7 linked regions of the Homo sapiens genome follow. The protein of the gene in region 3 purifies or fractionates together with the protein of the main gene of each other region. This does not show direct contact. Each region holds a gene or a part of one and is shown on either strand. Other genes may lie near its edges. The genes, in order: EXOSC10, ANXA6, THOP1, TALDO1, PLS3, NUAK2 and TIMM9.

The links.
Region 1: the proteins of THOP1 (region 3) and EXOSC10 purify together in Homo sapiens (affinity purification with mass spectrometry, with the first as the bait; one large-scale study listed by BioGRID). This does not show direct contact.
Region 2: the proteins of THOP1 (region 3) and ANXA6 fractionate together in Homo sapiens (co-fractionation; one large-scale study listed by BioGRID). This does not show direct contact.
Region 4: the proteins of THOP1 (region 3) and TALDO1 fractionate together in Homo sapiens (co-fractionation; one large-scale study listed by BioGRID). This does not show direct contact.
Region 5: the proteins of THOP1 (region 3) and PLS3 fractionate together in Homo sapiens (co-fractionation; one large-scale study listed by BioGRID). This does not show direct contact.
Region 6: the proteins of THOP1 (region 3) and NUAK2 purify together in Homo sapiens (co-immunoprecipitation; one large-scale study listed by IntAct). This does not show direct contact.
Region 7: the proteins of THOP1 (region 3) and TIMM9 fractionate together in Homo sapiens (co-fractionation; one large-scale study listed by BioGRID). This does not show direct contact.

Annotation. Positions count from the first base shown.
Region 1 is NC_000001.11:11,093,370-11,096,869, forward strand, and holds part of EXOSC10 (exosome complex component 10), read right to left. Parts: intron 2,513-3,500; coding exon 2,389-2,512; intron 1-2,388. UniProt on the Homo sapiens protein: Catalytic component of the RNA exosome complex which has 3'->5' exoribonuclease activity and participates in a multitude of cellular RNA processing and degradation events.
Region 2 is NC_000005.10:151,130,280-151,133,779, forward strand, and holds part of ANXA6 (annexin A6), read right to left. Parts: intron 2,909-3,500; coding exon 2,815-2,908; intron 2,293-2,814; coding exon 2,197-2,292; intron 1,011-2,196; coding exon 952-1,010; intron 1-951. UniProt on the Homo sapiens protein: May associate with CD21. May regulate the release of Ca(2+) from intracellular stores.
Region 3 is NC_000019.10:2,799,003-2,802,502, reverse strand, and holds part of THOP1 (thimet oligopeptidase), read right to left. Parts: intron 2,815-3,500; coding exon 2,712-2,814; intron 473-2,711; exon of another isoform or gene 1-472. UniProt on the Homo sapiens protein: Involved in the metabolism of neuropeptides under 20 amino acid residues long. Involved in cytoplasmic peptide degradation. Able to degrade the amyloid-beta precursor protein and generate amyloidogenic fragments.
Region 4 is NC_000011.10:757,464-760,963, reverse strand, and holds part of TALDO1 (transaldolase), read right to left. Parts: intron 2,015-3,500; coding exon 1,907-2,014; intron 843-1,906; coding exon 711-842; intron 1-710. UniProt on the Homo sapiens protein: Catalyzes the rate-limiting step of the non-oxidative phase in the pentose phosphate pathway. Catalyzes the reversible conversion of sedheptulose-7-phosphate and D-glyceraldehyde 3-phosphate into erythrose-4-phosphate and beta-D-fructose 6-phosphate.
Region 5 is NC_000023.11:115,641,174-115,644,673, reverse strand, and holds part of PLS3 (plastin-3), read right to left. Parts: intron 1,362-3,500; coding exon 1,166-1,361; intron 1-1,165. UniProt on the Homo sapiens protein: Actin-bundling protein.
Region 6 is NC_000001.11:205,301,563-205,304,745, forward strand, and holds the end of NUAK2 (NUAK family SNF1-like kinase 2), read right to left. Parts: intron 2,952-3,183; coding exon 1,888-2,951; 3' UTR 501-1,887; downstream 1-500. UniProt on the Homo sapiens protein: Stress-activated kinase involved in tolerance to glucose starvation. Induces cell-cell detachment by increasing F-actin conversion to G-actin. Expression is induced by CD95 or TNF-alpha, via NF-kappa-B.
Region 7 is NC_000014.9:58,414,032-58,417,531, forward strand, and holds part of TIMM9 (mitochondrial import inner membrane translocase subunit Tim9), read right to left. Parts: intron 3,050-3,500; exon of another isoform or gene 3,015-3,049; coding exon of another isoform or gene 3,012-3,014; intron 1-3,011. UniProt on the Homo sapiens protein: Mitochondrial intermembrane chaperone that participates in the import and insertion of multi-pass transmembrane proteins into the mitochondrial inner membrane.

The sequences.
Region 1 (3,500 bases), on a different chromosome or scaffold from region 3:
TGAAATATCAGCTTGGGCACTACTAACAGAGGCACAACCAGGTGACACATAGGATTATGGCAGGACTTGAAATCACAATATACCAGAAACTGCTGAAAGATTTGTAGGCATTTAGACTAGGGAAGAGATGACTTCATGGGACAGGAGGGCATGATTTAAATATTTTCAGGACTGTCAGATGGTTGAAGTCAGATTTGTTTTCCATGATCTCTATGTATTTCTGTGGAAATAACGTTCTGCCATAGAATTAGGCATAAATAGATAGTAAGCAAGACAGAATAATACACATCTCCTTCCAATCCTGTGAGCTGGAGGGGGTTCAGTAGATTTTGAGTAACGGTACAAATAAACTAAATTTTGGTTGGGTGATATAAATGCCTCTTCTTTTGCAACACAAATAGAATTTGCAAATCTTGTCAGGCACAGTGGCTCATGCCTATAATCCTAGTGACTAAGGAGGCTGAGGTGGGGGGGGATTGTTTGAGGCCAGGATTGTTTGAGGAGTTCAAGACCAGCCTGGGCAACACAGCAAGACATTGTCTCTATAAAATAAAAAAAAATTCAGCCAGACGTGGTGGTGCACACCTGCAGTCCCAGCTACTTGGGAGGCTGTGGTGGGAGGATCGCTTGAGCCCAGGAGTTCAAGGTTGCAGTGAGTTATGGTTGCACCACTGCACTCCAGCCTGGGTGACAGAGCAAGACTTCAGTATCCAAAAAAATAAAAACAGAATTTGCAGATCTGGAAGACAGATTCAGAATAAGGCACTTTATTTATTTATTAATTTTAAATAAAGACAAGGTCTCACTATGTTGCCCAGGCTGGTTCTGGAACTCCTGAGCTCAAGCAATCCTCTTACCTCGGCCTCCTACAGTGCTAGGATTACAGGAGTGAGCCACTGACCCTGGCCAGAATAAGGCACTTTAACTTTTTTTTTTTTTTTTGAGATGGCGTCTCACTCTTGATGCCCAGGCTGGAGTGCAATGGTGCAATCTTGGCTCACTGCAACCTCTGCCTCACGAGTTCAAGCGATTCTCCTGCCTCAGCCTCCTGAGTAGCTGGGATTACAAGTGCCCACCACAACACTCAGCTAATTTTTTATATTTTTAGTAGAGACAGTGTTTTACCATGTCCGCCAGGCTGCTCCTGAACCCCTGACCTCAGGTAGGTGGATCCACCCACCTCGGCCTCCCAAAGTGCTGGGATTATAGGCGTGAACCACCATGCCAGGCCACCTTTTTTTTTTTTTTTTTGAGACAGAGTCTCACTGTCATCCAGGCTGGAGTGCAGTGGCATGATCGCGGCTCACTGCAACCTTGGCCTCCCGGGTTCAAGCGATTCTCCTGCCTCAGCCTCCTGAATAGCTGGAATGACAGGTGTGTGCCACCATGGCCTGGCTAGTTTTTATATTTTAGTAGAGACGGGGTTTCACCATGTTGGCCAGACTGGTCTTGAACTCCTGACCTCAGGTGATCACCCGCCTTGGCCTCCCAAAGTTCTGGGATTGTAGGTGTGAGCCACCACACCTGGCTGGAATAAGGCACTTTAAAAACAGGCTTTCAGGCTCAGTGAGGTGGCTCACGCCTGTAATCCCAGCACTTTGGGAGGCCAAGACAGGCAGATCACTTGAAGTCAGGAGTTTGAGACCAGCTTGGCTAATATGACAAAACGATGTCTCTACTAAAAATACAAAAATTAGCCAGGAATAGTGGTGGGTGCCTGTAATCCCAGCTACTCCGGAGGCTGAGGTAGGAGAATCGCTTGAACCTGGGAGGTGGAGGTTGCAGTGAACCAACATCGCCCCACTGCACTCCAGCCTGGGCAACCAAGCAAGACTCCGTCTCAAAAAAAAAAAAAAAAAAGAAGCTTCCATGGGGCAGTAATATTTTTAAGACAACTGTAATTATTTTTTAGAAAAAATATACCAACTATTAGAAGGGAATGTTATTATAAGAAATGTTAAGCTTATTTCCTTTTCATTTTCTAAGGTGCCTGGGTTGCTCTGTCTATCCGTATATTTTAATAATACAAAGCTCTTTGTTAGTTACCATAAGAGTAAGGGAAGGCCGGGTGTGGTGGCTCACGCCTGTAATCCCAGCATTCTGGGAGGCTGAGGCGGGCGGATCACAAGGTCAGGAGATCGAGACCATCCTGGCTAACACGGTGAAACCCCGTCTCTACTAAAAATACAAAAAAATTAGCCAGGTGTGGTGGCGGGCGCCTGTAGTCCCAGCTACTTGGGAGGCTGAGGCAGGAGAGTGTTGTGAACCCGGGAGGCAGAGCTTGCAGTGAGTCGAGATCGCATCACTGCACTCCAGCCTGGGCGACAGAGCGAGACTCCGTCTCAAAAACAAAACAAAACAAAAAAAAGAGTAAGGGAAAATACTCACCACTCTCTCCAGAATTACATCATTGGCATCAACTAGTAAATCAAACTTGTCTTCCAGCTCAGTCACTTTACTTCGATCCTTAATGTTGCTGCGACACCCATGGTACTGCATTACTCTGCTCATGCTAAGGAAAGGAAAACCAAGGTTAGCTTGTAGATTTTTATTTCACTTGTTTACATTCTGTGAGAGAGAATGTTCAAATGATGTGGCTCAGACTGTTCCCAACACATCTTTTTTTTTTTTTTTGAGACAGTCTTGCTCTGTTGCCCAGGCTGGAGTTCAGTGGCATGATCTTGGCTCTCTGCAACCTCAACCTCCCGGGTTCAAGCGATTCTCGTGTCTCAGCCTCCTGAGTAGCTGGGATTATAGGCACATGCCAACAGGTCTGGTTAATTTTTGTATTTTTAGTAAAGATGAGGTTTTGCCATGTTGGCCAGGCTGCTCTCGAACTCCTGACCCGAAGTGATCTGCCTGCCTCCGACTCCCGGATTCAAGCGATTCTCATGCCTCAGCCTCCTGAGTAGCTGGGATTATGGGCACACGCCACCAGGTCTGGCTAATTTTTGTATTTTTAGTAAAGATGACGTTTCACCACGTTGGCCAGGCTGGTCTCGAACTCTTGACCTGAAGTGATCCACCTGCCTCGGCCTCCCAAAGTTCTGGGATTACAGGTGTGAGCCATGAGCCCAGCCTTTTTCTTTCTTTCTTTCTTTCTTTTTTTTTTTTTTTTTTTTAAAGAGACAGGGTCTTGCTCTGTTACCCAGGCTGGAATGCAGCAGTACAATCACAGCTCCCTGTAGCCTTGAACTCCTGGGCTCAAGTGATACTCCCACCTCAGCCTCCCAAGTAGCTGTGACTTGGGAGTGGTGCACCACCACTCCCAGCTACTTTAAAAATTTTTTGTAGGGATGGAGTCTCCCTACGTTGCCCAGGCTGGTCTTGAACTCCTGGGCTCAAGCGATCCTTCTGCCTTTGCCTCCCAAAGCACTAGGATTACAGGCATGAGCCGCCATGTCTGGCCCCTGATACTTTTTGATGAAACCAATAAAACTTGCACCCTAGCTGGGCGCAGTGGCTCACACCTGTAATCCTAGCACTTCAGGAGTGGTCAC
Region 2 (3,500 bases), on a different chromosome or scaffold from region 3:
GCTAGAGTACAGTGGCGTGATCACATAGCACTGCGTTCACTGAAGCCTCAAACCCAGGGGCCCTGTGCTCAAGAAATCCTCCTGCCTCAGCCTCCCGAGTAGTTAGGACTACAGGTATGTGCCACAGTCCCTGGCTAGTTCTATTTGTTATTTTTGTAGAGACAAGGGTCTTACTATGTTGCCCAGGCTGGTCTTGAACTTTGGGCCTCAAGTGATCCTCCCACTTTGGCCTCCCAGAGTGCTGGGATCATAGGTGTGAGCCACTGCATGCACTCAGCCTTGTGATGGGCATTCTTAATGAATTCATGCATACAGGCAAACATCTCTCTAGGGCTGAGCTGCCCAACCTCATTATGGCACACTGGTGGGCAGAGAATGGCCGACAGTCTACTTTGTCCTTTCGGAATGGCCAACCAGGGCCAGAAAGGCCCAAGCTCCTGTGTCTCGGGCCTCAGGCCTCTGGCAGCAAATAACTGCATTCATTTCCTCCAGTGCATCACAAAAATACCAGTTTCTTTGTGCGTCATATGTGTAAAAGCCTGGGAAGCTTTCTCAGAAACACACCCAGAGTGGAACTGTCACAGGGTGAGCATCATGAGTCTTAGCAGGCAAGGCCAAAGTGGTCTTGCCTACATACGCTGTATAAAAACATTCTGGTTAATACTTCTTCAAAGTCCGAGCCGCCAACCCATTTGGCTGGAGGGATCAGGTGCAGGCTGCCACCCTAAGTTCATCTGTTGACTCATGACGTCAGGCAGGTATGCAGGTGGCAGGACATGTGACCAGCAGCATTCCTGGCTCTACAGCTCACCTGCGACAGAGCACCTTCACCAGGGTCAGTCCTGTGGCCATCCCTGAAGGGCTCTCTTTGGCCACTGGATCCCAAGGACTTGTCAAAGACTCCCAATAGTCCTCTCCCCAAACCCCATTCACATCAGCCCCACCACGCACCTTCATAGCCTTGAAGAGCCTTTCAGCAAAATATTCCGGGGTGCTCCGGATACACTTCACTGTGAAGAGGGAGGAAGAGGTAGAGTTATTCTGGCTGCCTCAGAAGGGGGATGGGATGGCCTGACTCCCTCTTTGTTTCTATTCCTTGAGGGCCACCTAGCTCAATACAGGAAGAACCACCGTTCCTGATAGCTCACAGCCCCAGATCACCCCAGACCAACCCACTTTTACCGCACACCCAGGGAATAAACAGGAAATAATCTTGTTGAAATAATCCTTTTGAAGTCCATCACAAAGACCGCCTTTATCTTTCTAGTCCTTTTGGTTTTAACAGGGAATTGAGCTGGGGTGGGGGTAGGGTCTGGGGCGAAGGAGGAAAAGGTGTTTTTTAGACCTGCTACACCAGAAAGGTACTGGCAGCTGAATCATTGTGAATCCCACTGAATCACCGTGAGTCCCACTGGCTGACTACTTCAAACAGGGAGGGCAGGGGATGGCTCTGGGAGGGACGATAAAGGAGCTGCAGGTTTCCCCCAAGAAATACAAACACACAACATATCCCTGACTCAGACATGCTAACTGCTGGAATGCCAGAATTGGAAGGGCTTCTGGGGAGGCAATTAAGGCAGTCCATCCTTCCTGCCCCCACACCCTGCACCCCACTTAACAGATGAGGAAACTGAGGTCCAGCAAGCAGAAGTGACTTGCTCCAAGCCCATGTGGGAGAAGCCCTGGTTTGAATCTTGGCTCCACCACTGACTAGCCAGTTCCTCACATCCTCACGTTCTCAGTACCCCCAACTCATTACAAAACTACCCCTCAGGAAATGATCAGCCTGGTGAGACTCAGTTTCCTCATCTGTGAAATAGAGATCATGGCAGTGGCCACTGCTGGGTCTTTTTTAAAGATTACACACTCAGCACAGTGCCTGGCATGCACTAGATGCTCAACAAAAGTCAACTATTATGATCATCATTATCCTCAACCCAAGTTCAGAGCTCTTTGTCCCCCTGCCAGTGGTGGAGAAGGGAGCTGGAGGAAGTCAGTACCTGAGGCTCAAACCCCCTTCCCGTCCCCAGCCTCAGCCATGCTGCCCTGGAGAAACCTTTAGAATTCACGGCCCACATGGTTTTCTCCTTCCCAATTCTATACCATGTAATTCCCCTTTCCATTCTCAGCCCCTTGTTCCTAGGCCAGTGTTCCAGAATCCCCTAAAGCCCCCAGGAATGCAACGTCAGGACATACCTACGGCCAGCATTAGCTTCTCAAAGTCCCCAGACAGCTCCCCTCGGATGCTGGCTTCAATCGGCTTCCCTGTGGTCTTCAGATACTCATCGAACACTGCGTCAGACAGAGAGACAGGGAGGTTTGAGAGTGCCTCTGTACCCCCGAGAAGAAATGAGGACTTCAAGAGCAGGGGGGCACAGTGGCCAGGACGACTGTCCACCATGAAGCTAGGGCTGGTGCTATGATGGAGGCGACTGGGAGGTCACGCACATCACCAGCGCTGTGCAGATGAGCTTCATAGCTGGTGAGAGACTGTGTCTCATCCCCTAACATGGAGACAGGACTGGCACTGAGATGGAAGGCCAAGCATCCTGTTAATGACTTTGCTGAGGGACTATACAAACTGCTGTCTGATATTAGGTTGGTGCAAAAGTAATTGCGGTTTTTGCCATTCCTTTAAAAACGGCAAAAACCGCAGTTACTTTTGCACCAACCTAATAAACTCAGGACTAAAGTTTGGGTTGGGAATGAAGTAGGTATCATGTTCCATTAGTGGTAAAGAAAAGAAAAGAGATAAAGAAAGGCATTATTGGCATCAACCCAAGGGAGCAGCTTCAGGTCTTCTCTGGAGCTTACCCAACCGAAGATGCTGCTTGCTGCGATTTCCCAAGATGTAAATGAACTGGGCTTCATCTGTTCCCCATTTCAGTTCCCCTGCCTCGTATAGGTCCTGAAGGGGAAGAGGTGGCACTTGACTGAAAGAGGAAACCTCAGGAGACAGGACACACTGACCAAGCCACTCAGAACTGCTGCCTGATCCCTGAACACACGAGTAATTGGTAGCCTGAAGACCTTTGCAAATAAAACAGTCATGCATCATTTAATGATGGGGATACATTCTGAGAACTGCCATTGTTAGGCGACTTTGCCATTGTGTGATCATAGAGCACTCGCACACACCTAGATGGCATAGCCTACTACACACCCAGACTCCGTGGTATAGCCTATTGCTCCTAGGCGGCACACCTACCTGTTCAGCGTGTTATCTTACCGAATACTGTAGGCAACTGCAACACAATGGCAAGAATTTGTGTATCCAAACATAAATAATCATAGAAAAGGCACAGTGAAAATATGGGGTTATAATCTTATAGGACTAGCATCACATATCTGGTCCATAATCTTATGGGACTAGCATCATATATGTGGTCCATCATTAACCAAAACACCATTATGTGGTACATGACTATACCTATATGCCTTTCTTCCTTTCTTTCTGGAGAAACTCCTACTCAACCTTCAAGGCCCAGATTAAGTATTCC
Region 3 (3,500 bases):
GTCGGGAGGTGTTGGTGTCGGGAGGTGTTGGTGTCGGGAGGTGGGGGTGTCGGGAGGTGTTGGTGTTGGGAGGTGGGGGTGTCGGGAGGTGGGGGTGTCAGGAGGTGTTAGTGTTGGGAGGTGGGGGTGTGGGGAAGTGTTGGTGTTGGGAGGTGTTGGTGTCGGGAGGTGGGGGTGTCGGGAAGTGGGGGTGTCGGGAGGTGTTGGTATTGGGAGGTGGGGGTGTCGGGAGGTGGGTGTGTCGGGAGGTGTTGGTGTTGGGAGGTGGGTGGGTCAGGAGGTGGGGGTGTCCGGAGGTGGAGGTATCGGGAGACGGCGGTGTTGGAGGTGGCGGTGTTGGAGATGGTGGTGTTGGAGGTGGCAGTGTTGGAGATGGTGGTGTTGGAGGTGGTGGTATTGAGAGGTAGCAGTATTGGGAGATGTGGGTATCGGGAGATGGCAGTGTTGGGAGGTGGCGGTATTGAGAGGTAGCGGTATCGGGAGATGTGGGTATTGGGAGATGTGGGTATCGGGAGATGGCGGTGTTGGAGATGGTGGTATTGGGAGATGGCAGGATTAGGTACTGGGGCCTTCAAGAGGCAGCTGGGTCATGTGGCCTCTGCCTTCAGGAATGGATGAATCCATTCATGGATTCATGGATGAAGGGACAGATGGGTTAATGTGGCAGAGGGCCTGGGGCTTTGTGAGGAGGAGAGACCTGGGTGGAACCGGCTCGCTTAGCCCCCTCCCCTTGCCATGTGACACCCTGGCCGCCTCAGGGCTCCAGAGTCCCCACCAGGAAGAAGGCCCTGGCCAGATATGGCCCCTCGACCTGGGACTTCTCAGCCTCCAGAGCTGTGACAAGTTAATTCCTTTTCTTATAAACTACATGGCCTTAGGTTTTCTGTTGTAAGCAGAAGAAAAGGAACTAAGACCATCGCAAGGCGTCTCCTGAGAAATGACGGACCACAAAGGGAAACAGGTCCCGGGGCAGCAGCAGCGGACAGCCCTGGAGACTGTCACCCAACACGCTAGCCACCCGCATGACGGTGTCACCTGGCCACATGGGACTCAAGCCACCTGCACGGGAGACCCCTCAGGCCCGACAAATGGAACGGCACCCCAAAGAGTTAGACACCAAAATCCACAAACATTCGAGTTTGCAGGATGGCAAACGTGAAAAGAAACAGGCAGCTGAAACGCCGACAAGAACAAAACTGGCTGAAACCGGCTGGAACCCACATGAGCCAGCAGAGTCTGTGCAGAACCAGCTGGCTGATGCCAACTGAACTTCCACCGCGCTTCATACAGACTTCCCCAGGATTCACACCCAGGACCCACGAGCTGGCACGGACAGATAACTGTGCGTGCCCAAGGACCTTCCAGACCTCCCCTTTCCTTCCAACAATCACCTGCTAATCCCAGAATCCACCTCTGCACCTTCTCTCATGAAAGTACTGCCTGAAAGCTGGCACAGGAGGCAGATTTGAGCTGGACGCCCAGTCTCCTTGGGAGTCACTTGCAATGAGAAGCTTTTGTTTCCTCAAATCCTTGGTGCCATGGCATTGGCTTCTAGAACATCAGGCACCGAGTCCTTCTGCTTGCTAACACGAGCAGGCAGGAGAAGCAGCCCCACGGGGATGGTGCGGGTGGCCGCGGGGACGGTGCGGGTGGCCGCGGGATGGCGTGGGTGGCTGCGGGAATGGTGCGGGTGATCAGTGCACCCACTGAGGGGCAGGCTGGGAAACGTGCTTTACGGCAGATTGTAGCCCGTCGTCTCTCCTGAGTGCCAGAAGCTGAGGGTAGGATGTGCTGCCCGAGACACGGGAGGGCTGAGCAAGTGGCTGGCAGCCAAGCTTGGCAGTGCCCGACCTGCGAGTGTTCCCTCAGGAAACATACGCCCAGGTGACCACACATCAAGCCACCTGCGGAGGCCTCCGGCCATGAGGGCCTTGTCCCCACCCACCACCTCAGAGGCAACTACATTCAGAGTCTAGAACTGGAGGTTATATTCTATAGCACCCATCAGAATATTCCGGCCTGCCTGGGCACGGTGGCTCATGCCTGTAATCCCAGAACTTTGGGAGGTTGAGGCAGGCAGATCCTGAGCCCAGGAGTCTGAGACCACCCTGGCCAACACGGCGAAACCGTCTCTACTAAAAATAAAAAAATTTGCCAGGTGTGATGGCATACGTCTGTAGTCCCAGCTACTCAGGAGGCTGAGACAGGAGAATCACTTGAACCCGGGGGACGGAGGTTGCAGTGAGTGGAGGTCGCACCACTGCACTCCAGCCTGGGCAACAGAGCAAGACTCCATCTCAAAATAAATTAATTAATTAATTAAATTAAATAAATAAAGGCAGGCAGGAAGTGGGGTCTCAAGGGAAAATTGTGGTTCCCTCAGGGCCATGGCTGAGACTGGCACCCTTGGCCACCCCGTCCGGCCTGGGCTTCCGCCACTGCCAGGGACATTTTCTATCAGGGTGGAATCTTGGTGGGACAGACCATGGCCCTCCCCAAGGAGGGCTCAGAGCTTTTGGCTGTAAACGGCCCTGGAGCGCTTCCGGTGAGGAAAGTCCTCAGCCCAGGGCGGTCAGGTCCACGTACTTCGGCCTCCCGCCGCCCTTCAGCACAGAAGCCCACAGGAGGAAGCGGCGGCCCCCGAGGGCCTGGCAGGCCTGCACTGAGTCCCAGGACCGATGGCCACCCGTGCCCCACTGCTCGGCCCCTACCTAGCTCCTGGAGCGTGAAGGGCAGGAAGGTCGTGTCCTCGTTCAGGTTCTTGTTGAAGTCGATGCACAGAAGGCTCAGCTTCTTCTTGATGCGTTTGATGTTCTGGAGAGAAAGGCGGGGCGTGAGGGGAGGGAGAGACCGGGGCGGGCTCCGCGGGGAGACGCAACGCCTGGGAACCCTCTCGCCGAGGGCTGAGGGATTTCCCCAAGAACCAGGCCGAAAGAAGAGGCAACCGAGGAGGAAAGAGTGAGACGGGAGGCGGAGGACAGACAGACACGGAGGCCACGAGGCTGCGCAGTGTGGATTTCAACACCAGCTGCGGCATCCAAAGCTGGGTGACCTCGGGCAACCTCAGGGATGTGCTCCGGTCTGTCAGGTGTGGCCCTGGCCAAGAGTGCTCCAGACCCTCCTATCCATTAAGGAATCACCTTCAGAGCCTGCAGCCTAAGCTTTTCAACATTCTTCTGAGACAGGGACTCGCTCTGTTGCCCAGGCTGGAATGCAGTGGCATGATCTCGACTCACTGCAGCCTCAACCTCCCAACTCAATTGATCCTCCTGCCTTAGCCTCCTGAGTAGCTAGGACTACAGGTACACGCCACTACACCCAGCTAATTTTTGTATGTTTGGTACAGACGGGGTTTCACCATGTTGCTCAGGCTGGTTTCGAACTCCTGGGCTCAAGCAATCCTCCCACCTCAGCCTCCCAAAGTGCTGGGATTACAGGCATGAGTCACCGTGTCTGGCAGCTTTTGAACATTTTACCCCTTATCTGGTAAAGCTGGTTTT
Region 4 (3,500 bases), on a different chromosome or scaffold from region 3:
CGCCTCCTGGGTTCAAGCAATTCTCCTGCCTCAGCCTCCTAAATGGGACTACAGGTGTGTGCCACCATGCCCGGCTAATTTTTTATATTTTTTAGTGGAGTCGGGGTTTCACCGTGTTAGCCAGGATGGTCTCGATCTCCTGACCTCGTGATCCCCACGCCTCGGCCTCCCAAAGTGCTGGGAGCCACCGTGCCCAGCCTAAAATTTCTTTATATTTTTGTAGAGACAAGGTTTCACTTTGTTGCCCAGGCTGGTCTGGAACTCCTGGGCTCAAGTGATCCTCCCATCTCAGCCTCCCAAATTGCTGGGATTACAGGCATGAGCCATCTTGCCCAGCCAGCATATATTTTATATAACAATAGTTTACTTTTTAAAAATCATGTAAACATAGGCTTGTGTTGATCAGGACAGAGGAAGGACAGAATCTGAATCTGCAGGTGCTAACTAGTGGCTTTTCTTCTCTGCTGAGTGGGTGGATGGTACTTCCTGGGAAATCCCTCATTTCTGATCACCAGCAAGTGAGGGAGCTGGCTCTGGAGCAGAGGGCAGATCTAGGCTGACATGAGCTGGTCAAGTCCAAGCTGTGGGCTGTGCTCCCCAGTCTGGCATTCCCCAGGGCTGAGAGAGTCAAACTTGCCTGATGCCATGTAGACCCTGCTCCAACAGAGGAAAAATCTCTGAGAGCTCCTTCCTTGTGGGGGACCACTTACTTTCCAGCCTGAATTCCTTCCCAGGTTGATGACAGCTTTATAAGAATTCGGTCCTTGCTGATCCCAGCTTCCTTGTAGAGCTCGATGAGCCGCCTGGCTCTGGCCACCATCGCATCTTTATCAAAGGAGAGCCTGTAGGAGCAAGAAGAACCCATCCCCTCAGATCACGCAGGTTGCCCACCACGCAGAGCAAGCTGGAGGCCGGGTGTCTGCCTGTCAGTTTTGAGCAGCACCACCGTGAGCACCAACCACTGCCCTCAACCTTCCCCTCACTGGAGGTTTGCAGAATGGCTCTGACAGCAACTCACACCCAGTCTCACAAACAGAGGTCCTCAGTGGGATCCATAGGCTATAATTTGTATTAAAAAACACTGGGCCAGGTGCCGTGGCTCACGCCTGTAATCCCAACACTTTGGGAGGCTGAGGCGGGAAGATCACAAGGTCAAGGGATCGAGACCATCCTGGCCAACATGGTGAAACCCTGTCGCTACTAAAAATACAAAAAAATTAGCTGGGTATGGTGGCGGGTGTCTGTAGTCCCAGCTACTTGGGAGGCTGAGGCAGGAGAATCGCTTGAACCCGGGAGGTGAAGGTTGCAGTGAGCTGAGATCACACCACTGCACTCTACACTGGCAACAGAGCGAGACTCTGTCTCAAAAAACAAACAAAACAAATCAAAACAAAAAACACTAGCAGCCGGGCACAGTGGCTCATGCCTGTGATCCCAGCACTTTGGGAGGCCGAGGCAGGTGGATCATGACGTCAGGAGTTCAAGACCAGCCTGGCCAAAATGGTCAAACCCCATCTCTATTAAAAATACAACAAATTAGCTGGGCATGGTGGCAGGTGCCTGTAATCTCAGCTACTTGGGAGGCTGAGGCAGAGAAACGCTTCAAGCCGGGAGACAGAGGTTGCAGTGAGCTGAGATTGCGCCACTGTACTCCAGCCTGGGTGACAGTGCGAGACTCCATCTCAAAAATAAATAAAAATAAAAATAAAAAACACTAGAGATCAGTTGCTAAACAAGGAGCTCTTGGTCATCACTACCAACTGTGGGAGAGCTCAAAATAAACCTCCTCTTGGGCCCTTGGGATGAAGACCATGGGTGGAGCAGCCCCTTGACCTCATGTTGGCATCCACGTGTGCAACTGTGGACACCTGACCAGCCCATCCAGTGCAGGAGCAAGCATCCTTACCTTGCGTCTACTTCTGTGGATACTCGGCCCGGAATCTTCTTTAGTATTTCTGCTCCAAACAACACAAAAAGTTTATCAATAGCATTTTTAATCTGGTCCTCTTGTGACCTGAAATTCAAAGGGAAAAAAAGCAGGTTAGAAGCTTCTGAGGTTCGCCAGGTGCGGTGGCTCACGCCTGTAATCCCAGCACTTTGGGAGGCCGAGGTGGGCGGATCATGAGGTCAGGAGATCAAGACCATCCTGGCTAACACGGTGAAACCCCGTCTCCACTAAAAATATTAAAAAATTAGCTGGGCATGGTGGCGGGTGCCTGTAGTCCTAGTTACTAGGGAGGCTGAGGCAGGAGAATGACGTGAACCTGGGAGGTGGAGCTTGCAGTGAGCAGAGATCGTGCCACTGCACTCCAGCCTGAGCGACAGAGCGAGACTCCATCTCAAGAAAAAAAAAAAGAAGCTTCTGAGGTTCAAGTGCACAAGACTCTACAAAATAAATTCTGTTATTTCTTTGCCAAATTTCCTTCCCTCCATCTTTTTTTTTCTCTTAAAACATTTTTTTATTGTGGCCAAATAATACATATAACATAAAATTTCCCATCTTATCCTTTTTTTTTTCCCCCAAGACAGGGTCTCCAGCTAAGGCTGGAAGCACAGTAGTGTGATTATGGCTCATTACAGCCTTGACCTCCCGGGCTCAAGTGATCCTCCTGCCTCAGCCTCCCAAGTAGCTGGGACTACAGCTGCACACCTCTATACCTGGCTAATTTTTTTGTTTTGTTGAGATGGAGTGTCACTCTGTCGCCCAGGCTGGAGTGCAGTGGCACAATCTCGGCTCTGCCAGCTCTGCCCCCCGCGGTTCACGCCATTCTCCTGCCTCAACCTCCTGAGTAGCTGGGACTACAGGCGCCCGCCACTGTGCCCGGCTAATTTTTTTGTATTTTTGGTGGAGACGGGGTTTCACCGTGTTAGCCAGGATGGTCTCGATCTCCTGACCTCGTGATCCGCCTGTCTTGGCCTCTCAAAGTGCTGGGATTACAGGCGTGAGCCACCACGCCTGGCCCATGCCCAGCTAATTTTTATATTTTTTTGTAGAGACAGAGTTTTGCCCTATTGCCTAGACTGTTCTCGAACTCTTAGGCTGAAGGGATCCTCCCATCTTGGCCTACCAAAGCACTGGGGTTACAGGCGTGCACCACTGCCCCCAGCCCACCATTTTAAAATGTATTCAGCACATTCACAGTTCTGTACAACCATCACCATCCATCTCCAGAGCTCTTTTCATCATCCCAAACTGCATCCCTCTATCTTTTGGCACTTGCAAAATATTATATTTTCTATCTCTTCAAAGTTATTGGACAGACACCCAGTGAAGTCCATGATTCTGTTCCAAAATCTGAGCAGCCTTGTTAGCCCACTACACACAGGAAGATCTTCAGCTAGACGCTCAGAGGTTAGAATTCTTGGGCCAGACTGGGTGCAGTGGCTCACGCCTGTAATCACAGCACCCTGGCAGGCCAAGGTGGGCAGACTGCTCAAGCTCAGGAGTTCGAAACCAGCTAGGGCAACATGGTGAAACCCTGCCTCTAAAAACAAATACA
Region 5 (3,500 bases), on a different chromosome or scaffold from region 3:
ATAGAAATATCAGTGGACACTCAATGAATTACTATTTGCATTATTTATTTATTTATTTATTTATTTATTTATTTTTGAGATGGAGGTTTGCTCTTGTTGCCTAAGCTGGAGTGCAATGGCACGATCTCAGCTCACTACAACCTCTGCCTCCCAGGTTCAAGGGATTCTCCTGCTTCAGCCTCCCGAGTATCTGGATTACAGGTGCGCACCACAATGCCTGCCTAATTTTTTGTATTTTTAGTGGAAACGGGGTTTCACCATGTTAGCCAGGCTGGTCTCGAACTCCTGACCTTAGGTGATCTGGCCACCTTGGCCTCCCAAAGTGCTGGGATTACAGTCGTGAGCCACCGCGCCTGGCTGCATTTCTTAATTTTTATAGACTACGCTTCACACATATATAATCTGGAAAAGGTAAACTCTGCCTTTCCAAAACTTAAAAAAAAATTAGTATATATTATCATTTGTTTCTTGAGGAGGTAAAGGTGAAAGGAGTTGGGGTTAGTTCCAGTTACATTGACTGTGGATGAATGAAACATAAATATATGCTAAATTTACAGGTCAAACTGAATGCATATGTGCACTTTTTCCTGGTGAGAGGATTAAAAAGTGGTCTAACCCTAAATATTAAAACTAAATACTGATTTACTAAGTGGCTTTACATTAAGCGACTCGACTACTTTTTATTTTTTTTATTTATTTTTTGAGATGGAGTCTTACTCTGTTGCCCAGGCTGGAGTGCAATAGCGCGATCTCGGCTCACTGTAACCTCCGTCTCCCAGATTCAAGTGATTCTCCTGCCTCAGCCTCCCGAGTAGCTGGGATTACAGGCATGTGCCACCACGCCCCAGCTAATTTTTTAATTTTTCGTAGAGACGGGGTTTCACCATGTTGGTCAGGCTGGTCTCAAACTACTGACCTCAGGTGATCCGCCCATGTCGGCCTCCCAAAGTGCTGGGATTACAGCTGTGAGCCACCGTGCCCGGCCTCGACTACTTTACTTTAAAAGTTCACTTGTATCGTACTTTCCTGCCAGTTTTTACTCAGCATCTGCCATCTACTTCTTGTAGATATAAAAAAACTTATTAAGTCTAGATTGTAAAATCATTGTGGCCTATGTATTTCTACTCTATAGTCCCACACATTCGAAATTGAGGTTTTTAGTTACCTTCTAATAGAGTCCAGTCAATATCCTGGTTCTCTGGCTTAGTTAGTGCTGGGTATTTATTAAACAGGTTAGCCACGAAAGCTAAGTTGAGTTTGGGGTTTCCACTGACAACATCAGCAGGGGTAACAAACTGTCTGCAACCTAATTTATCTGCTTGTTGAAGCATACTCTCAGCTCTCTTCAAATCATCTGTTTCCTGTTGAAACAAAATCGGAAGACTTTGTCAAAGGCCACACTAAAAATATAGAAAATTTCCCCACTGTCATAGTCTGGGTATACAGTTCTACTTTCTTTTAGCTAACATATGGTACTTATTATAAAATTGTTTTGAATGCAAAAAAAAAGGTTGGCCCTCTTGGAGATGCAGTACCTGTAATATACACTAGATGGCGCCAGATCACACAGCAAACTACTGAGTACATTTAACTAAATTGCATTAAGAAAGAAGTTACGTAAAAGGTTGGGGGAAACTCCCAGATTTTGTTTGAAAATCTGTAGAGAAAAATATACATTCACCATCTTCACTTTCTCTGGTTCCACTTTTCCTTTTTTCCTTCTCAATAGGAAAACAGCTTCAATTGTCCTTTTAAGCCACCTCAAGTTAAATATTCAGATATTTTCAGTAGAATTATGTTAAAATTTTTTTTCAAATGTACTTTATCTACAATGAATCTCAATTAATTATTAAATGTGAAAGGGTATTAACTGTAGTCCTACTTAAGTCTCCTTTAGAAAATGGTGTTCATTTTCTGTAAATTGTGGGTTCATTCTCTTCAACCTGGCTTATTTTATTTTATTTTGCTGATTTACTACTTTCTGCTTTGGAGTTTCTCCTTTTTTCTACTGGCTCTCAGCTGAACTTCACTGAGGCTTCTGGGTACTGTGCATTAAGTCAATGAGCTTCATGACAGAGTGGACTCCTTGGAACCCTGGAACCTCTGGGGCTGTGTTATGCAGCAGAAGGAACTAGAAAGGAGGGCACTGCTGGAGAGCGAGCTAGAGAGAGAGGAAGTTGTGCTGAGCTGTGGAAGTAGGCTTCCCTGGCTGAGGGAGAAGACAGACACCTTCATTCATGTCATGCTCAAATCCCAAGGGAAATGCTTGTGAACTGTTGCTTGAATTGAAGAGAAGCAGAGAATCTATTTCCACTGATTTCTTTTGAGCGTAGGGAGAATGGTGGAAGGCAAGACCAAGGATTAATCTCAGGGAATTGAAGGATTAAAAAAGTTAGGACGAAAGGAAGGGATTTTTTCCATTACAAAGACGAAGAGAAAAAAGTTAAATTGAAATAAAAAACAGGTAAAACTGTTCAGAGTTAAAATTAGGCCTTGGTTGGACGTGGTGGCTCACGCCTGTAATCCCAGCACTTTGGGAGGCCGAGGCAGAAGGATTGCTTGAGCCCAGGAGTTCGAAACCAGCCTGGCCAACATGGCGAAACCTCGTCTCTTAAAAAAAAAAAAAAAAAAAAAAGACCCTAAAGAAGGTGTAAAGCTGAAAAAGATGAAGGACACTGAAAACCATGAGAACAGCATGAGCAAAGGCACCTGGGTGGTGGTGGGAAGGAAGGTTGGGGTGGGGAACACAGACTTTTGGGGAAATAACACTGGCTAGATTTTAGAGCAAGATTTGTAGGGTGAGTGCCAAGCAGAACATTTCAGACTGAATTCTAGAGTCAACAGAAGAATCCTTGTCGGATTCTGAAGAGGGAAGAGACAAAAGAGTGTTTTAAGATCAATTGGAAAGGATTGACTAGAGAAGGGGTGTATCAGAATCGGTTAGCATACTGATGCCATTTACCCTGGTATCAGATCACATGGCTAGCCAACCCAGACAGCTCCCTTCTTGGACAAGATGGCCCCTCATCCCTACCAAGAGTGACCTGAGCTGAAGAGTTTTGCATTTAACATACAGACAGAAATATAAGCACACAAGTCAGTTACAAATTCAGTTCTGATAAGGGCAGCATAAAAATGGTTTAGCCACGTAAGGCACGGTGGCTCACACCTGTAATCCCAGCACTTTGGGAGGCCGAGGCGAGTGGATCACCTGAGGTCAGGAGTTCAAGACCAGCCTGGCCAACATGGTGAAACCCCATCTCTACTAAAAATATAAAACTAGCTGGGCATGGTGGTGGGCGCCTGTAATCGCAGCTACTCGGGAGGCTGAGGCAGGAGAATTGCTTGAACCCAGGAGATGGAGGTTGCAGTGAGCCGACACGGTGCCACTGCACTCCAGCCTCAGCAACAGAGTGAGACTCTGTCTCAAAAAAAAAAAAAAAAAAAAGAAAGAGAAGAAAAATGGTTTAGCCAATGTAATCCACTCCATCCTATGGCAT
Region 6 (3,183 bases), on a different chromosome or scaffold from region 3:
CTCTGCAGGGGGCTGAGGGAGTTGGCGTACGGTGGGGGTGGACATTCCAGGCATTCTTTGCTTTCTCTGGGAGTCAGGCAGTGAGGACGGAGGGGGGAAAAGCTGCCCAGCACCAGAGTAAAGGGGATTTCTTAGGAGGGAGAGAATAAAGGCTGTGGGGGTGTCTTTACGCAGCAGGAGCAGGGCTCAAGCAGACAGGAGCAGGGGTGGGAGGAGAAGGAGGCAGGTGGTGGGGGCAGGGTGGGATAATCTGCCAAATCCACTTCTACTTTAGTGCCAAAGGCCGGAAGAGCAACTGGGACCCTGGGCCCAGGGCCTTCCCACCTGTGTGCTTAATAGGGTCAGGCCAGAGCTACTGAGCTCACGTTTGTTTTGATTCGGCAGTTTTTCTATTTCCCATCCCTGGCAGCCTAGGGGAACGAGTATTAGGAGAAGGCTCAAAAACCTGCTCAGCACCATCCCTCCCCACCTCAGTCACCAAAGAGAACAGCAGGGCCTGCTTCCAATCACCTTTCTGGTTTTAATGGTACTTTTTGGCCACGGAGGTCCATTAGGTAGAGACCATTAGGTAAAGAGACTCAAGAGTGTGGAGTGGAGTGTGGGGGGTTGTGGGAGGAGGTGGAAATAGTTGCAAAAATATCTCTCTGTACACAAAACTTAGATGTCATAGTGGATTTTCCCAGAACATAGCATTCACATTATTGAAAACAGCAAGATTCACTTTTCCTAAAACACAAAGCCAAGAACATAAAAATAAATATGGACATTCTAGAGTCCTGAAGGCCTAGAGAACACATCCATAGTCTGGACTTTAGAGCAGCTTAGAGGCAGAAGTTCTGAGTCACTGAGGTCCAAGGTGGAGTCCAGAGGAGGCTGGGCCCCTTGAGATGAAGTCCACACAGCAGGCGGAGGCTTTTCAAGTCTTTCAGATTCACAGCAGCAACTTCAGGAGGCTCAGGCCAGGTTTGGAGGATGGAAAAGGGAAGAGAACCATTGAAGAAACAGAGATTGTGTTCTCTTACTCCTAGGCTAAATAAGGAAGGGTTAGGTGGGGCGCGGTGGCTCACGCCTGTAATCCCAGCACTTTGGGAGGCCGAGGTGGGTGGATCACCTGAGGTCGGGAGTTTGAGACCAGCCTGACCAACATGGAGAAACCCTGTCTCTACTAAAAATACAAAATTAGCCGGGCATGGTGGCGGGCGCCTGTAATCCCAGCTACTAGGGAGGCTGAGGCAGGAGAATCGCTTGAACCCGGGAGGCGGAGGTTGAGGTGAGCTGAGATCGCGCCATTGCACTCTAGCCTGGGCACCAAGAGCGAAACTCCGTCTCAAAAAAATAAATAAATAAATAAAAATAAAAATAAAAATAACGAAGCGTTACTCCAGACCATTCCCAGGATGCCTCATGCACATTAGGGGTGCCACCATCCAGTTCTGGTGGTTGGTAGGAACGGGAATGTGTGTGTAAAGAGGTCTGGCCCCACTTGGGCAGGGAATGAGTAGGGAAGGAGCTGTCCTTAGAAGGCACCATGTGTACAGAGTATTCATGGGATGCAGGAGATGGGCCCTGGGAGAGTTCTCTTTCCAGGTCTCTGTGGCCCCCCCATGTACACAAGAAACAGGCAATGTGGACTCTGTCGCGGGCATTCCCGTTCCCCTCTCTTTAGTATCCTCTTCGTTCAGCAGGGCTGAAGACAGACACTGAACCCTTGGCGCATTTCATTTGCCTACTTCCCATATCCAGCCCTGCTCAGGGCTCCACTGCAAACCCTCTCAGCCTTCTGAGCTGGGATGCAGGTCCTGGGAGGTGGGGGAGAAGGCATCTCCCCTCGGGGTGCAACCAGCTGCATCTGAGAGCCTGACCGGGCTGGGGCAATGCCTACTCCACTCAGGTGAGCTTTGAGCAGACCCTCAGTGCCTGTCGGTAGGTCGCTGTCACCTCCTGGCAGTCTGTCAGGGAAAAGCAGCTGTCCCCCAAAGGATCCTGCCGCCAGCGCCTCAGGCAGCTTCCAGGGCCCTCTGAGGGGGGCTCCTCAAGCCCCGTGAGGTTGTCCACAGACACACAGCCCCGCAGTGGGGGCTCTGGGAGCCGTTCAGGCAAGTCCAGCTGGTCAAAGGACTCAGAGGACAGGATGCTGTCCTCGCTCACAGCCCCTGAGGGTCGGCTGGCCCGGGCCAGGGGGCGAGGTGGGGCGAGTTCATCCAGGGAGCCGAAGGTGGTGGGGGCCGCGAGCTCCAAGGCTGTCTGGGAGAACTTGCCATTGAGTTTGAGGATGCCTTTGCGATGGAGGAGCAGCCCTGAAGCTTGCGGAGGCTTCTGCTCCTTGGGATCCCCACTCACAAACACGTCGCCTGCGTCCAAGAGCTCCCCAGATTCACTGGGCTCGGGAGAGGAGTAGTAGCCAGACTCGCGCTGTCGGGGCTTCTTGAGAATGCCCTTCTTGGGGAGCAGGGGGGCAGCCTGCCCTGGGCTCGCAGGGATTGGGCTGAGCTCCGGAGGGTCCTCCTGTACCCCTTCTGCAGAGGCTGACACCTTCTTCTTGAGAATGCCCTTTGGCAGCTTGAGGTTGCTCTTGCCAGGGCGATGGGCAGTGTCATCAGCCGTGTCACTGTGGAGAGACTGGGCCATGTCATTCTCCTTGCGGGACTTCTTGAGCGAATGCTGGCGCTCCAGGCCAGGGGTGGTGCTTCCCCCACCAGGTGCATGCTGCTTGAAGAAGCTGCACACCTTGGCCCCATTCTCCAGGAGGGGGCGGGAGGAACGCCGGAGCCAGTCAGCCATGGAGGCGCGGGCAGAGTCACTGCCAGGGTGCCCACCCTCATGCGGAGCCTCCTGCTCTCCCACTCGGGTGGCGTAGCCCCAGTTGACCCACCAGTGACTGGCCACATCCTCCAGGGTGGCCCGGCGGGTGGGGTTCACCATCAACAGCCACCGGATCAGGCCACAGGCATCTGGAAGACAAAAGGCAGGTGCTTCAGTTTGGCAGCTCCCAGAATAGGCACTCCCTGTCCCCTGTCCCCAGCTCATCCCCTTTTGAGCTATGACACTGCATACTCCTGGGTCGGATGCGTCCCTTCCAACCTAGGGCTCTATACATGCCTTGGCCCAGGACAGCTCCCCAGTCCAGAGTTCCTGGACTGACTCCTCCAGCTGCCTCTCTGTCCTCTGACCCCTCAGGACTGT
Region 7 (3,500 bases), on a different chromosome or scaffold from region 3:
AAAAAGGTTTGTATAAAATAAAGCTGTTTGAAACAGAAATTAAACAGCATGTAAAAGGAAAACATGAATCATGTACACTGTAGACTAACATAAATGCTATACATTTTATTTAGTTAAGAGTTTTCTGATAACCAAAACAAAAATGATAAACTGGATGTGCAAATTTTTATTAGCTTATCAATTATTAAAGTATCTCTGGAAAACATAAATTCTTTATGAAGCTTTGTTGAAACTAATTTTTATGAAGTTCGTTGAAACTAGTAGTAAATTCAAGTTTAGGACAAAGTGTATGCCACCATCACAAAAAAAAATTAACATTCTGCTTTTGATTAACACATACAATCAACAGTAATTCCATTCCACCAGTCTCAACCATACCTATACTTTCCTCCTTTTTTCTTATCCTATAAAATCACAATAACTAGGCTGGGCACGGTGGCTCACACTTGTAATCCCAGCACTTTGGGAGGCTGAGGCAGGTGGATCACCTGAGGTCAAGAGTTGGAGACAAGCCTGGACAGCATAGTGAAACCGCATCTCTACTGAAAATACAAAAATTAGCCGGGCATGGTGGCTTATGCCTGTAATCCCAGCTACTCAGGAGGCTGAGGCAGGAGAACTGCTTGACCCCTTGGGCGGAGGTTGCAGTGAGCCGAGATTGCAGCACTGTACTCCAGCCTGCACCGCATAGTGAGACGCCATCTCAAAAAAAAAAAAAAAGAAAAAAAAGAAAGAAAGAAATTCACAATAACTACTGACATTTAAAAAAATGTCATTTCCTTCGTATGCACAGAAAAGCCTCCCCACTCCCCAGCGAGTGTCAGTGGAAACCACACAGGGAGCCTGGCTTTCCACCCCAATTGGCAGTAATGAGGTACCCATCTCCATCTACTCTGGGGTGGTATCTAAGGAGGCCTACTTGACATTCAGGACTTGCATTACTGCCTCATGACAATTAGGCCATGTACCCTGCTGTAATGTCAGTGGAGGCCACATGGGGAGAGTAACAAAGCACTGTAGTCCTTCCCAGCCAGGGAGTTATCAGTGGAAGCCTGGTGAGGAGCCAGAATGCCTACTCCACCTAGCAGTAACAAGAAACTCCCTGCCCCTCCCTTCAAGTGTCAGAGTGAGGAAGATGAATTTCTACTTCCACCTGGCAGTAATGAAGTGGTACCTCCCACCACTTCCCCTCATGGAGCATTGTCAAAAGGAGCCAGATAAAATGATTAAATAACATCTAGAGCCTCATAACATGATATGCAAGATGTCCAGGCTACAATATATTAAAAAATCACTCATCACACCAAGAACTAGGAAGATCTCAAACTGAATTAAAAAAAGACAACAGATGCTCAACATTGATTAATATGTGTTAGGATTATCTGACAAAGATTTTTAAATAGCACCTTGTAAATACTTCAGTGAGCAATTATGAACACACTTGAAACAAATGAAAAAACAGAAGGTCTCAGCAAAGAAATAGAAGATATCAAGACCCAAATGGAAAGTTTAAGAAGTGAAAAATACAATAACCAAAATAAACTCAATGAATAAAATCAATAGGAGAATGGAGGGGACAGAGGAATCAGTGAATTGGAAGCCAGAAAATAGAATTCTTCAACCTGAATTACAGAGAAAAACAGAATGAAAAACATTAACAGAGTACAAAGGACTTGTAGAAGTATAAAAAAGTGAATATTTTGTCTCATTAGAGTCCAAGAAGGAGAGGAAGAAAAGGGTAGGGTAGTAAAAGTAGTGGAAGAAATAATGGCTGAAAACTCCCCAAGTTTGGCAAAAGACATAAACCTACAGATTCAAAAAGCTGAACAAACCCCAAACAGCATAAACCCGATGAAACCTACATCGACACATAATAGTCAAACATCTGAAAACTAAAGACAAGGCTGAGCGCAGTGCCTCACGTCTATAATCCTAGCACTTTGGGAGGCCAAAGCGGGTGGGTCGATTGAGGTCAGGAGTTCATGACCAGCCTGGTCAACATGGTGAAACCCCGTCCCTACTGAAAAAAAAAAAAAAAATACAAAAAGCAGCTGGCCGTGGTGGCACACACCTGTAATCCCAGCTACTCAGGTGGCTGAGGCACGAGAATTGCTTGAACCCAGGAGGCAGAGGTTGCAGTGAGCCAAGATCATGTCAGTGCATTCCAGCCTGGGTGACAGAGTGAGACTCTGTAGCAAATAAATAAATAAATAACAATAAATAAAATAAAAAATAAAGACAAAAAGCCATTGAAAGCAGCAAGTGAAAAACTATATCTTGCCTGTAGGGGTAAAACCATTAGGATGAAAGCAGATTTTTCTTTAGAAACTATGGAGGCCACAAGGAAGTGGCACAAAATGTTTCAAGTGCTAAAGGAAAACAACTGTCAATGCAGAAACCTGTATCTAGTGAAAACAACCTTGAGAAATAAAGGAGAAATCAAGACATTCTCAAATGTAGGAAAACTAAGAAAATGTGTTACCAGCATAGCTACCTAAAATAATCGCTCAAGTTTCTAAACGAAGAAAATGATAAAAGTAGTAGTCCTGGAACATCAAGGAGGAAAACACAGTAATAGGTACAATACACTTCTCTTGAGTTTCCTAAATTATGTTTGTCGGTTGAAGCAAAAATTATAAAACCATCTATTGTGGTTCTAAATGTATGTAGACAATTAAGGTTTCTATACTTCACTTGAACTGGTAATATGCTGACATCATTACATGGTGATAAACTAAATCAGTGCCATGAGAAAAAGTTTTAGTACTAAATGCATACATTAGAAAAGGAAAAAGGCCAGGTGTCGTGGCTCATGCCTGTAATCTCAGCACTTTGGGAGGCTGAGGTGGGAGAATTCCTTGGGCTCTGGAGTTCAAGACCAGCCTGGGTGATATGGTTTGGCTATGTCCCCACCCAAATCTCATCTTGAATTCCCAAGTGTTGTGGGAGGGACCTGGTGGGAGGTAATTGAATCATGGGGGCAAGTCTTTCCCATGCTGTTCTCATGATAGTGAATAAGTCTCCCAAGATCTGACGGTTTTATCAAGAGGAGATCCCCTACACAAGTTCTCTCTCTTTGCCTTCTGCCATCCATGTAAGATGTGACTTGCTCCTCCTTGCCTTCAGCCATGATTGTGAGGCCTCCCCAGCCATGTGGAACTGTAAGTCCATTAAACCTCTTTCTTTTGTAAATTGCCCAGTCTAGGGTATGTCTTTACCAGCAGTGTGAAAATGGACTAATACACTGGGCAACATAGTGATACCTTCTCTCTCCAAAAAAAGAAAAGAAAGAGAGAAAAGAAAAGAAAAGAGAAAAGAAAGAAAAGTAGCTGGGCATGGTGGCATGTCCTATACCCCCAGCTACTTGGAGGTTGAGGCAGGATTGCCTGAGCCAAGGAGTTTAAGGCTGCAGTGAGCTATGATCATGCCATTGCATTCCAGCTCAGATAAAACAGCAAGACCCTGTTAAAAAAAAAAAAAAAAAAAAGGAAGTGGAGGTA